Homo sapiens: one gene and its partner. The protein of the gene in region 1 purifies or fractionates together with the protein of each later gene. This does not show direct contact. Each region holds a gene or a part of one and is shown on either strand. Other genes may lie near its edges.

Region 1 (7,026 bases):
TCCTGAGTAGCTGGGATTACAGACAGGTACCACCCTGCCCAGTTAATTTTTTTTTTTTTTTGGTATTTTTAGAAGAGGTGGGGTTTCACCACATTGGCCAGGCTGATCTCGAACTCCTGACCTCAAATGATCTGCCCCTGCTCAGCCTTCTAAAGTGGTGGGATTACAGGCGTGAGCCACCACGCCTGGCTTATTATTATTTTTTTGACAGGGTCTTGCTCTGTCACTCAGCCTGGAGTGCAGTGGTGTGAGTATAGCTCATTGCAGCCTTGACCTGAGCTTAAATGATCCTCCCACCTCAGCCCCACAAGTAGCTGGGACTACAAGCATGCATCACCATACCCTGCTAATTTTTGAAGTTTTTTTTTGTGGAGTTGGGTTCTTGCTATGTTGCTTAGGCTGATCTCAAACTCCTGGGCTCAAGTGATCCTCCTACCTCATTCTCCCAAAGTGCTGGGATTACAGGTGTGAGTCACTGCACCTAGCTTAAAAAGTTTAAATTGCAAACAAATCTCCATAGGCATGAACAGGGAAATGGATAATCCTTTCCCTTTTTAAGATTATCATTGTGTTGGTAAGGAAATGAACTCTTCTCCAAAAGAGTCCTGATGGTAGTGTATTTGTTTGATTTATAAAGGTTGACTTTTTTATTAGCTAAGTACTTCATTTGTCTACTTTATCTGATCAGTAGATCAGGCATGAATCCACTTCTTGCTGGCTTTTAGAATCACATGATTAAGACAAGAGCAACTACAGTTCAATCTTATAATTTCAAAGTTATTTATTCTGAGTGGTATAGAATTCAAAGTACCTGTTTTTCTCTAGTATACTAAGTGCCTTAAATAAGTTTCTAGATAATCTGAATTTTGTTAAGATATCAAAATTTTAAAGTATCAATCTAATTGATTGGCATTCTGCCATTAAAAGTGTTATAGAAAGATGACAGAGGCTGCTACAGTCACGCCATGCCTAGCTAAGTCTGTGCCAGCAGAGGCAGAGAGCTTGCGGTGGGCCAGTTGCCCCTGCTGGAGCCTCAGTTAAATCTGAACATCCCACTGTCCCAACCCTCCCACAGATGTGCACCGGGCTGTACTTTGGCTTAAGACTGCAGGTGGACATCTCCACTGCCCGGGAATCATGGAGTGTGTAGACAGGACAGCCTCCATGGAAGGCTGGTCATACCAGAGTCCCACCTTGGCACAGGCCTTGCCATTGAGGCAGCTCTACTGTCTGTGCTGGTCTGAGGGTGGGCTGCCTGTCATGGGGGCAGCCATTTCCCAGGGGGTGTTCATTGCCGTCATCTGCAACGCCTCATAGGCTTCTTGCTGCTTCTGCTCCGAGTCATTCTCTGCCGGGCCTACACTCTTGCTATGCCAATATTGACTGTCTCTACAGATTTAGTCCCAACTCCAGCCCTGGCCCCTATCCTGAAAAGGTACCACTGCCCAAGAAACCTAGCCATGAAGGCAGCTACCTGCTGCAGCCCTGAAGGCCCCTGGCTTAGCCTGGAGCTTGGGACCTAAGTCCATCCCACCCACATCCTGGAATCAAGATTCCAGGGTTTTAGCCAGACTAGGGTCTAGAACTTGGAGCCTAACCTGCTTGGATTGGACTCAGCAACCCTGAGTCTAGCCATACTGGTTCTAGGAGAGGCTCAGTGGCCCTAGAGAGATGGGCCATGGTGGGAGTTCATGAATTGCTGGTAGGGCCAGGGCCATCTGGACTCTGTTCTGAGTCAGGGGCTGAGTCTACCCTTTCCTTAGGCTAAGCACTTCTAGGTGGGGGAAGCAAACTGAAACCCATGGCAATAATGGGAGGTTGTCCAGGATGTGCCCCTCTCCTAGTCCTCCCACTGTTTGCTGAATAATAAATGGAACGGCTCTACCCTGGGGGTGTGTGTGGAAGAATTGTTATAGAAAGAATTATTTTCCCTTAGTCATTAAAGAAAATGTTTGTATTCTTTTTTTAATGTGGATGAATGTTTGCTTTTTTTTTTTTTTTAAATTAGATGCATTCAATATTCCAAGTCTGGACAGCATCAAGAATTATTACAGGTACTGTAATAAACAGAAGACAGACCACTATGTAGAGTCAGTGTTATAAGGAGGGTGTGGTCAACTCAATGAATGAGAGAAAACTTTAAAAAAACATTTTAAGAGGCAGGGGTCTCGCTATTTTGCCCAGGCTAGCTCTGAACTGAGCTCAAACGATCCTCCTGCCTCAGACTCCTGTGTAGCTGGGGCTGCAGGCACATGCTACTGTGCCTAGCTGAAAACATTTTTTAACAGGTAAAATTTTTCTATAAAGAATCTCTAGTAATTTAAAAAATGAGCCTTTTTGTCTTTTTGTGACAGATGCATTTCTTTTTGTTTAGAGTTTTTCTTTCCTTTAATTCTTTCTGTTTCATATACAGGCATACCTCGTTTTATTATGCTTCGCCTTATTGCACTTTGCAGATGTTGCATTTTTTCAAATTGAGAGTTTGTGGCAAGCCTGCCTTGAGCAAGTCTATGGGAGCCATTTTTCCAACAGCATGTGCTCACTTCCTGTCTCTGTGTCTCATTTTGGTAATTCTCACAATATTTCAAACTTTTTCATTATATCTTTTATGGTGATCTGTGATCAGTGACCTTTGATGTTACTATTGTAATTGTTTTGGGGTGCTACAAACCTTGCCCATATAAGTCCAGGAACTTAATCAATAAGTGCTGTATGTGTTCTGAGTGCTGCACCAATCAGCTGTTCTCCCATCTCTCTCCCTCTCCTCCAGCCTCCCCATTCCCTGAGACACAACAATATTAAAATTAGGCCAGTTAATAACCCTACAATGGCCTCTAAGTGTTCAAGTGAAAGGAAGGGCCCAACATCTCTCACTTTAAATCAAAAGGTAGAAATGATGAAGCTTGGTGAGGAAGGCTGTTGAAAGGCTTTCAGATAGGCTGAAAGCTAGGCCTCTTGAGCTGGAGCAGTGAGCCAAGTTGTGAAGGCAAAGGAAAAGTTCTTGAAGGAAATTAAAAGTGCTCCTCCAGTGAACAGATGAATGATTAGAAAGTGAAACAGTCCTACTGCTGATGTGGAGAACGTTTTCGTGTTCTGGATAGACAATCAAACCACCTACAACATTCACTTAAGCCAAAGCCTAATCCAGAGCAAGATCCTAACTCCCTTCAATTCTATGAAGGCTGAGAGAGGTAAGGAAGCAGCAGAAGAAAAGTTGGAAGCTGGCAGAGTTTGGTTCATGAGGTTTAAGGAAAGAAGTTAACTCCATAACATAAATATGCAGTGTGACGCAGCAAGTGCTGATTGATGGAGAAGCTGCAGCAAGTGACCCAGAAGATCTAGCTAAGATAATTGATGAAGGTGGCTGCGCTAAACAACAGATTTTCCATGTAAATGAAACAGCCTTCTTTTGGAAGAAGATGCCATCTAGGACTTTTATAGCTAGAGAAAAGTCAATCCCTGGCTTCAAAGGATGGGCTGACTATTGCTAGAGGTCCATGCAGCTGATTTTTTTTTGTTGTTGTTGAGAAAGTTGCACAATAATTTATTTAGGGCCTCCTCTCCCCACCCTTGCAGTCTCTAGGTCACTTTTTCCGCTTGTAGATTTTGCGCGCCAACCCCAGAAAGATGACTGGGGGCAGGGGAGCTGCGTACTGTTCAATGAGACCCATAACGTGGCTGTAACTGTCTTCCTATTATTGCAAGAACATGGCCGGCAGATCCAGCTCCTCATATACTGCCTTCACCGGGGCCACCTTCTCGGCCTCCTTCTGCCCAAAATTCTCCTTCAGAATCTGGTACTGTTCTGGAGTGGCCCGTTGCAGACACTGAACCACCAGCCAGCTGCATTTGTTGTCCTGGATGTCAGTGCCAACTTTGGCGGTCACATTGGGGTCCCCAAAGAGGTGAGGGTAATCATCCTGATCTGAAAGAACTCTCCCTCTCCCATCTCCAGCAGGATCTTCTTGGCATTGGTATTCTCCTTCTCTCTATCAATACCTGCATATACATGGCTGCAGCTACAGGAAGGTAGAAGGAGTAGAAACTGCCTTGTACGTGACACTAGATTTGTACCTCTTTTCAGTGAATCTGCCAAGATCCACATTGCCCTGGGGGGCTATGATGAGATCCAGGGTCTGCCCAATCTCAGTCTGATAGAAACTCTGCCGGAAGAGCTGGATCAGGTTCAGGTAATAGGGCTGCTCATGGCAATAGAGCTTCAGCAGGCGGTACATACATGCTTCCCTTCCAGAAGCATAGCAACATTGATGGCATCCAAACCCGCGCCCGGCTTCTGATATCAGCAGATCTGTCCCCAGTGGGTGAGGGATGAATCCATGATGTCATTTGCCACCAGGAAGAAAGCTTGCAGCAGTTCCACACACGAGCCCATAGTCAGGGCCCGCTGGAGACTCTCAGTATCCTGTTTCCTCGGCTCCACCAGCTCCCAGAATGCTACTAGCACCATCAAAGCCCAGTGATACTTGCCTCCAATGGCATTGTACTACAGGACCTCCGTGAGCTGGGTGATAGCATCTCCTGTCTCTGGGTGCCCCATCTCATCCTCAGTCAGCACCCTAACAATCTGGGAGAAGCACTGAATGAAATCCTGCTTTTCTTGGACAGAAATGTCTGATTTCTGGTCTCCATTCATTCTGAGGGAGGAGCAAAGGGCTCTGTTCCTGGATGTGGGTTCCTGCTCCATAGCTGATGACTTTAAGTGGAGCCAATGCCCACTTACCATTCTGAAAATCCTTGGGTGCTTAAGCGTTATGCTAAATCTACTCTGCCTGTGTTCTATATATGGAACAACAAAGCCTGGATAATAATAGCACATCTCTTTACAGCATGGTTTACTGAATATTTTAAGTCCACTATTGAGAACTACTGCTCAGAAAAAAATATTCCCTTCAAAATATCAATGGTCATTGACAATGCACCTGGTCACGCAAGAGCTCTGAGGAAGATGTACAAGGAGATGAATGTTATTTTCATGCCTGCTAGCGCAGTATTCATTCTATAGCCAATGGATCAAGGAGTAATTTCAACTTTCAACTCTTACTATTTAAGAAACACATTTCATAAGACTATAGCTGCCTTAGATTATGATTCCTCTGATGGATGTGGGCAGTCAATTGAAAAATTTATGGAAAGGATTCACCATTCTAGATGCCATTAAGAACAGTTGCAATTAATGGGAGGAGGTTAAAATAACAACATGAACAGGAGGGAAGAAGTTGATTCCAACCCTCATGGATGACTTTGAGGGGTTCAAGACTTCAGTGGAGGAAGAACTGTAAATGTGGAAATAGCAAGAGAACTAGAATTAGAAGTGGAGCCTGAAGAGGTGACTAAATTGCTGCAATCTTATGATAAAACTTGAACAGATGACAAGTTGCTTCTTATGGATGAGCAGAAAAAGTGGTTTCTTGAGAAGGAATCTACTCCTTCTAAATATGGTGTGAACATTTTTGAAATGACAACAAAGGATTTAGAATTATACATAAACTTAGTTGATAAAGCAATAACAGTGTTGGAGAGGATTGGATTTCTTTGGGTAAAATGCTATCAAGCAGCATTGCATGCTATAGAGAAATTCTTTTTTTTTTTTTTTTTTTGAGATGGAGGCTTGCTCTGTCACCCAGGCTGGGGTGCAGTGGTGCGATCTTGGCTCACTGCAACCTCCGCCTCCCGGGTTCAAGCAATTCTCCTGCCTCAGCCTCCTAAGTAGCTGGGACTACAGGCGCCTGCCACCATGACCCGCTAATTTTTATATTTTAGTAGAGACAGGGTTTCACCATATTGGCCAGGCTGGTCTTGAACTCCTGACCTCGTGATCTGCCCACCTCGGCCTCCCAAAGTGCTGGGATTACAGGGGTGAGCCACCGCGCCCGGCCAAGAAATTCTTGTGAAAGGAAAAGTCAATTGATGTAGCAAACTTCATGGTTACCTTATTTTAAGAAATTACCACAGCCACCCCAACCACCACCCTGATCAGTCAGCAGCCACCAACGTCAAAACAAGACCCTCCACCAGTAAAAAGATTTTGACTCGCTGAAGGCTCAGATGATCATTAGCATTTTTAGCAGTAAGGTTTTTTTTTGTTTTTTTGGTTTTTTTTTTGAGACAGGGTCTCTCTGTCACCCAGGCTGGAGTGCAATGGCGCGATCTCAGCTCACTGCAATCTCCACCTTCCAGGCTCAAAGTGATCCTCCCACCTCAGCCTCTCGGGTAGCTGGGACCACAGGCGTGAGCCACCATGCCTGGCTAATTACTGTGTTTTTTATAGAGACAGGGTTTCTAAATGTTGCCCAGGCTAGTCTTGAACTCCTGGGCTCAAGTGATCCACTCACCTCGGCCTCCCAAAGTGCTAGGGTAACAGGCGTGAGCCACCATGCCCAGTCAGTAGAAGTATTTATAAATTAAGGTATGTGCATTGTTTTTCTAGACATGATGCAATTGCACACTAAATAGACTATAGTATGGTGTAAACATAACTTTTTTTTTTTCTTTTGAGACAGGATCTTGCTCTGTTGCCCAGGCTGGAGTGCAGTGGCACCATCTTGGCTCACTGCAACCTCCACCTCCCTGGTTCAAGCGAGTCTCCTGGCTCAGCCTCCTGAGTAGCTGGGACTACAGGCATGTGCCACCATGCCTGGATAATTTTTGTATTTTTAGTAGAGACAGAGTTTTGCCATGTTGGCCAGGCTGGTCTCAAACTCCTGACCTCAAGTGATCTGCCTGCCTTGGCCTCCAAAAGTGCTGAGATTACAGGCATAAGCCACTACGCCCAGCCGTAAACATAACTTTCATACACACTGGGAAACCAAAAAATTCATGTGACTCGCTTTTTTGCAATATTTGCTTTATTGTGGTGTCAGGAACCACAATATCTCTGAAATATGCATGCAGTTTAATGCTTTGTTTTGGCTAATGGTACTTTTAATATTCCACACGGGCTTAAAAAATTGTTTAAGTCATTGATACATAGGAAAAGTCATTTATATCAGAGCTTGTCAGCCACAC
Region 2 (7,026 bases), on another chromosome or scaffold:
AGGTGTGGTGGCTCACTCTTGTAATCCCGGCACATTGGGAGGCCGAGGCAGGCGGATCATGAGGTCAGGAGATCGAGACCATCCTCACTAACACAGTGAAACCCCATCTCTACTAAAAACACAAAAAACATTAGCCGGGCATGGTGGCGGGTGCCTGTAGTCCCAGCTACTCGGGAGGCTGAGGCAGGGAAATGGCATGAACCTGGGAGGCAGAGCTTGCAGTGAGCCGAGATCGCGCCACTGCATTCCAGCCTGGGCAACAGAAAGACTCCGTCTCAAAAAAAAAAAAAAATTGATGCATGGTGGGGAACAAAAATGAACTGTCAACTCAGAAATCTGTTTTGAGGCCAGGTGCAGTGGCTCACGCCTGTAACCCCAGCACTTTGGGAGGCCAAGGCGGGTGGATCACCTGAGGTCAGGAGTTCGAGACCAGCCTGACCAACATGGTGAAACTCCATCTCTATTAAAAAGACAAACTTAGCCGGACTTGGTGGCGTATGCCTGTAATCCCAGCTACTCGGAAGGCTGAGGCAGAATTGCTTGAACCCGGGAGGCTGAGGCAGGAGAATTGCTTGAACACAGGAGGCAGAGGCTGCAATGAGCCAAGATCATGCCATCACACTCCAGCCTGGGCAACAAGAGCGAAACTCTGTCTCAAAAAACAAAAACAAAAATTAGCCAGGTATTGTGGTGCACACCTGTAATCCCAGCTACTTGGGAGGCTGAGGCAGGAGAACTGCTGGAACCCAGGAGGCGGAGGTTGCACTGAGCCGAGATCACGCCACCACATTCCAGCCTGGGCGACAGAAAAAGACTCCATCTCAAAAAAAGAAATTTGTATTGAATGAAAATATCCTTGGGAGGCCAAGGCGGGCAGATCACGAGGTCAGGAGATGAAGACCATCCTGGCTAACATGGTGAAATCCCGTCTCTACTAAAAATACAAAAAATTAGCCAGGCATGGTGGTGGGCGCCTGTAGTCCAGCTACTCGGGAGGCTGAGGCAGGAGAGTGGCGTGAACCCGGGAGGCGGAGCTTGCAGTGAGCCAAGATCATGCCACTGCATTCCAGCCTTGGAGACAGAGCGAGACTCCCTCTCATAAAAAAAAAAAGAAAAAAAAAAGAAAAAGAAAATATATCCTTCATGGCTGGGCACGGTGGCTCACACTGAAGCGGGTGGATCACGAGGTCGGGAGTTCAAGACCAGCATGGTGAAGATAGTGAAACCCCGTCTCTACTAAAAATACAAAAAATTAGTCAGGTATGGTGGCGGGTGCCTGTAATCCTAGCTACTCGAGAGGCTTAGGCAGAGGATTGCTTGAACCCAGGAGGCAGAGGTTGCAGTGAGCCGAGATCATGCCACTGCACTCCAGCCTGGGCAACAGAGTGAGATGCCATCTCAAAAAAAAAGAAAATAACCCTCATATAAACACAGGGCAAAACGAAAACATTTTCAGGTCAAAAAAACCCAAAGGTCTGTGACCAACAAACCTACCTACAACAAAGGCTAATGGATGTTTTTCAGTCTGAAGAGAAACAACACCAGACAGAAATAGTCTGGGGGAATCCATGGGAAAAGTAAATAAGGAAGAAACTGTGAAGATAAGCTAAGAAGTACATAATATGCAACTATCACAGTAAATGAAATATTTTGTGATTGGTTAAAAAAAGAAAAACTGTCATGGGAATCCTGGACACAATGCAGGTCAGGAGACCAGGGAGGAGCCAGGGATGATTCTTTGAGTCAACTGTAGTCATATCTACAATTCATACTTTTTTTTTTTTTTGAGACAGTCTCACTCTGTCGCCCAGGCTGGAGTGCAGTGGCGCGATCTCAGCTCACTGCAAGCTCCGCCTCCTGGGTTCACATCATTCTCCTGCCTCAGCCTCACCAGCAGCTGGGACTACAGGTGCCCGCCACCACACCCGGCTAATTTTTTGTATTTTTACTAGAGATAGGGTTTCACCATGTTAGCCAGGATGGTCTCAATCTCCTGACCTTGTGATCCGCCCGCCTCGGCCTCCCAAAGTGCTGCGATTACAGGCGTCAGCCACTGCGCCTGGCCACTCTTATGAAATACTTTTTTTTTTTTTTTTTTGAGATGGAGTCTCACTCTGTTGCCCAGGTTGGAGTGCAGTGGCACCACCTCGACTCACTGTAAACTCTGCCTTCTGAGTCAAGCAATTCTCTTGCCTCAGCTTCCCAAGTAGCTGGGATTACAGGCACCTACCACCACGCCCGACTAATTTTTGTATTTTTAGTAGACGGGGTTTCACCATCTTGGCCAGGCTGGTCTTGAACTCCTCACTTCGTGATCCACCCGCCTTGGTCTCCCGAAGTGCTGGGATTACAGGTGTGAGCCACCACGCCCAGCCGTGAAATATTTTTACACTTACCTTTGGGCTCTTGGTCCTATAATTTTGAGCAGTGATCAGCTGTGACAAACATCTCATCCTATAGCAATCCAACCCAACTGTGATAGAGAAAGGCAATGCAAGAGGCAATTTGGGAATAGGGAAAATAAGAAAACGAGGAAAAGAGAAAAGGTATCGATGGCAGTAAGAGTAGAGGATGAAAAATATCCTGAGGGTCAATACCCAGGCCACAGATACCTTTTTCAAAAATGTTGCTGCTGTTTCTCTCTTTGTTGCTGTGATCCGCTTCACTCCATCCGGGGACTGGACACGAATTATCTGTTGCAAACAAAACATGATGGTTACTGCACAGCCTAGTGAGGTCCTGATCTAATACTACGGCTTCCATCTGTGGTCTTTTAGCATCTGGGTCACTGAAAATTAAAGCCAAACCTCACTCTTCACCTTTCAATACCCAGCTCAATCCTTCTAGAATATGATGCCGAGGGGTGAGATTCATCAACATATGGGGAGATATTTTAAGAGTACTGTCCTCTCAACTCTTAGTTTCACTCAGAAAACAACTTTAATTCCTAATCACTATTTATAGAGTATATGTAAAACACTTTTTGTCTCTTCAGACTTAAAACAGAGAAAAACCCACCATGAACCATGAATGAACTGTGTTCTTTAAAAAAGATGTTACTTTGGGGAAAAAAAAAAAAAAAAGATGTTACTTTGTTCCAGGATCTATATACAAACATTAGACAGTCTTCAAGAGTCCTACAATTTAAAAGAATCACAGGAAATTTTCTAATTGTTACTTTTTTTTTGCTTTTTTGAGACAGGGTCTTGCTGTCACCCAGGCTGGAGTGCAGTGGCAAAATCACAGCTTACTGCAGCCTTGACATCCAAGGTTCAAGTGATCCTCTGACCTCAGCCTCCCGAGAGCTGGAACCACAGGCTTGCACCACCACACCAGGTTAATTTTTTTTTTTGTAGTGACGGAGTGTCATATTTCCCAGGCTGATCTCGAGCTCCGGGGCTCAAGTGATCCTGCCACTGTGCTGGGATTACAGGTGTGAGCCACAACGCCAGCTATTACTTACTTTCCCTAAAAAACGTTTAAAAATGGCCAGACACAGTGGCTCACGTCTGTAATTGTAGCACTTTGGGAGGCCAAGGCGGTGGATCACTTGAGCTCAGAAGTTCAAGACCAGTGGGCAACATGGGGAAACCCCATCTCTACTAAAAATACAAGTTAGCCAGGCATGGTGGCGTACGCCTATGGTCTCAGCTACTTGGGGAGCTGAGGCACGAGGATCACTTAAACCAGGGAGGTCGAGGCTACAGTGAGCCAAGATGGTGCCACTGCACTCCAGCATTGGTGACAAAGTGAGACCCTGTCTCAAAAAAAGAGATTAGGCTGGGCACAGTGGCTCCTGCCTGTAATCCCAGCACTTTGGGAGGCCAATGCGGGCAGATCACCTGAGGTCAGGAGTTCGAGACCAGCCTGGCCAACATGGTGAAACCCCGTCTCTACTAAAAATACAAAAATTAGCTGGGCGTGGTGGCGGGCACCTGTAATCCCAGCTACCCGGGAGGCTGAGGCAGGAGAATCGCTTGAACCCAGGAGGCAGAGGTTGCAGTGAGCCAAGATCGTGCCATTGCGTGACGAAGAGCAAGACTTCGTCTCAAAAAAAAAGTAAAAATTTAAACTTAAAAAAGAAATTAAAATTAAAAGCAATAAAGGTCTTTAATGGTAAAATTTAGTAGGGTTTTGAAAAAATATTTTCAGCTGGGCACAGTGGCTCACACCTATAATCTGTGCACTTCAGGAGACCAAGGCAGGAAGATCTCTTTAGCCTAGGAATTCGAGATCAGCCTGGCCAACACAGCGAGACCCCATCCTAATTTAATAACGTGTGTGTGCATATATGCATATTAAAGTGTACATATATATATATATATTTTTTTTTTTTTTTTTTTTTTTTTTCCCCCACGGCAAGCCTAAAAAGGTTGGCAGATCTGGAAGACTACTGGACAAAGGGCATTACTTTCTAAGACAACTTGATGTTTATGCTGATGAAAGCCATCGTGAAGGTGAGTTATCATGCCTGGCCAACAGCACAGGCCCCTGCTTTAGACAAGGAGGATGACATGGCATGCTCTGCAGCAAACAAAGACCTGCTCCAACCATCCGCGGGACGGGAAGGAAGGCAGACAGGAACATGCGCATAAGTGTCCTAGCTTCTCCTCTCAGCAAAGACTGATGGTGCATTCTATAGCTTCTTTCTCTCTCATTTCCTGCATTACCATCTCTTGTATTTAGCTCATTTTTTTTTTCCCCGAGATGAAGTTTCAATCTTGTGGCCCAGGCTGGAGTACAATGGCGCAATCTTGGCTCACTGCAACCTCTGCCTCTTGAGTTCAAGTGATTCTCCTGCCTCAGCCTCCTGAGTAGCTGGAATCACAGGCGCCCACCACCATACCCAGCTAATTTTCTTTTTTTTGAGACAGTCTTTTTCCGTTGCCCAGGGTGGAGTGCAGTGGCGCAATCTCGGCTCACTGCAACCTCCACTCACTGCAACCTCCGCCTCCCAGGTTCAGGCGATTCTCCTGTCTCAGCCTCCTGAGCAGCTGGGATTACAGGCGTGCACCACCAAGCCCAGCTAATTTTTGTATTTTTAGTAGAGACGGGGTTTCAACATGTTAGTCAATCTGGTCTTAAACGCCTACCTCAGGTGATCCACCTGCCTCAGCCTCCTAAAGTGCTGGGATTATAGGCATGAGCCACCAACCCTGGCCTAGCTGATTTTTTATAGTGAAACATTTCAATTCCCTTATTTCCTTTTTTATTTCTTTTTTTTTTTTCAGCTCTTGTTGCCCAGGCTGGAGTGCAATGGCGTGATCTCGGCTCACTGCAACCTCTGCCTCCCCGGTTCAAGTGATTCTCCTGTCTCAGCCTCCTGAGTATCTGGGATTACAAGTGCCTGCCACCACGCCTGGCTAATTTTTAGTATTTTTAGTAGAGATGGGATTTCACCACGTTGGCCAGGCTGGTCTCGAACTCCTGACCTCAAGTTATCCACCCACCTGGGCCTCCCAAAGTGCTGGGATTACAGGTGTGCACCACCACACCCGGCCTCCCTTATTTCCTTTTTCATAAATTCTATAACTATTTTCTGTGAGGTTACCACGAGTGTTACATTAAACATCCTCTTCAACCATTATGCAGATGAAAACTGTCACAAGCCATTGTCTAAAAAAGATTTCCACTGATACAGGACAAAACACCATAAAGGCTCAGTCTACTGGGATTTGTCCGCTTTTAGTAAAGTAACTAAGCCTAATCTAGATTTTCCTAAAATAGGATAACCCTGTCCTGCATTTTCCCATAACTTTCACTTGGCAGAAAAGGCTCCACCCAATATGTTCTCAACTTTTAAGTCAGGAGATTGAGACCATCCTGGCTAACACGGTGAAACCCCATCTCTACTAAAAATACAAAACATTAGCCAGGCGTGGTGGAGGGCGCCTGTAGTCCCAGCTACTTGGGAGGCTGAGGTAGGAGAATGGCGTGAACCCAGGAGGCAGAGCTTGTGGTGAGCAGATCGCGCCACTGCACTCCAGCCTGGGTGACAGAGCAAGACTCCGTCTCAAAAAAAAAAAAAAAAAGAAAAGAAATACAATTCTTTATACTTCTAACGTCTAGTATACTTCATTCTAGATTCAATACCCCAGAAAAACGTTTTCACAATATATAGCATTAGGTAAATACTTCCACTTATTTGTTTCTAAAATCTGTCTGCCAACACTTAGCTATCTTAAAAAGGAAAGCTCTGTTCTAATGAAGGGGAACATGTGAATGTTCCTTCAAACGATGACTCTGGAACAAGAGCATGTTACCGCCATTCTTTACAGAGCTAAATGGTTCAGGCTGCAGAATTCTAAGGTGAAGAAGTCATCCTACTTGATCCTCTACCACAGAAGATGGGAGTCCAGGTTTCCAAGGCCAACTCCAGTATTTAACAAGAGACAAACATAATTTGTACGATGGAAAGTTCTGGCCTAGCCTCTGACACAGACTACAAAATGAAATACACAGGAAGAGACAGACCTGACAACATGAACACACAGCCTCTTGGTAACTTAAGTTTCCCTATTTATAAGAAAATAAGACTAGAACGCTTCTTGGGGAAGTTGAAGAACTGGTGAGATACAGTTAAATCCACAGAAACTCTTTTCTCCCCCCAAGACAGAGTCTTGCTCTGTCACCCAGAGTGGGAGTGCGATGGCGCGACCTCGGTTCACTGCAACCTTTGCCTGCCGAGTTCAAGCAATTCTCTTGCCTCAAGCCTCCCAAGTAGCTGGGATTATAGGCGCCCGCCACCGCGCCCAGCTAATTTTTTTTTTTTTTTTAAGAGTCTCACTCTGTCACCCAGGCTGGAGTGCAGTGGTGCGATCTCGGCTCACTGCAATCTCCGCCTCCCGGGTTCTAACTTTTCTGCCTCAGCCTCCTGAGTGGCTGGGACTACAGGTGCACGCCACCACGCCCGGTTAATTTTTTGTATTTTTTTTTTTTAGTAGACGTGGGGTTTCACCGTGTTGCCCAGGCTGGTCTCAAACTCCTGAGCTCAGGCAATCCACCTGCCTCGGCCTTCCAAAGTGC

What was found. Proteins that work in one complex are often made in the same cells at the same time.
Region 2: the proteins of TMEM62 (region 1) and NPLOC4 purify together in Homo sapiens (affinity purification with mass spectrometry; 2 studies listed by BioGRID and IntAct, with this or other methods). This does not show direct contact.

What each region holds. Positions count from the first base shown.
Region 1 is NC_000015.10:43,136,566-43,143,591, forward strand, and holds part of TMEM62 (transmembrane protein 62), read left to right. Parts: intron 1-2,008; coding exon 2,009-2,054; intron 2,055-7,026.
Region 2 is NC_000017.11:81,627,113-81,634,138, forward strand, and holds part of NPLOC4 (nuclear protein localization protein 4 homolog), read right to left. Parts: intron 2,694-7,026; coding exon 2,613-2,693; intron 1-2,612. UniProt on the Homo sapiens protein: The ternary complex containing UFD1, VCP and NPLOC4 binds ubiquitinated proteins and is necessary for the export of misfolded proteins from the ER to the cytoplasm, where they are degraded by the proteasome.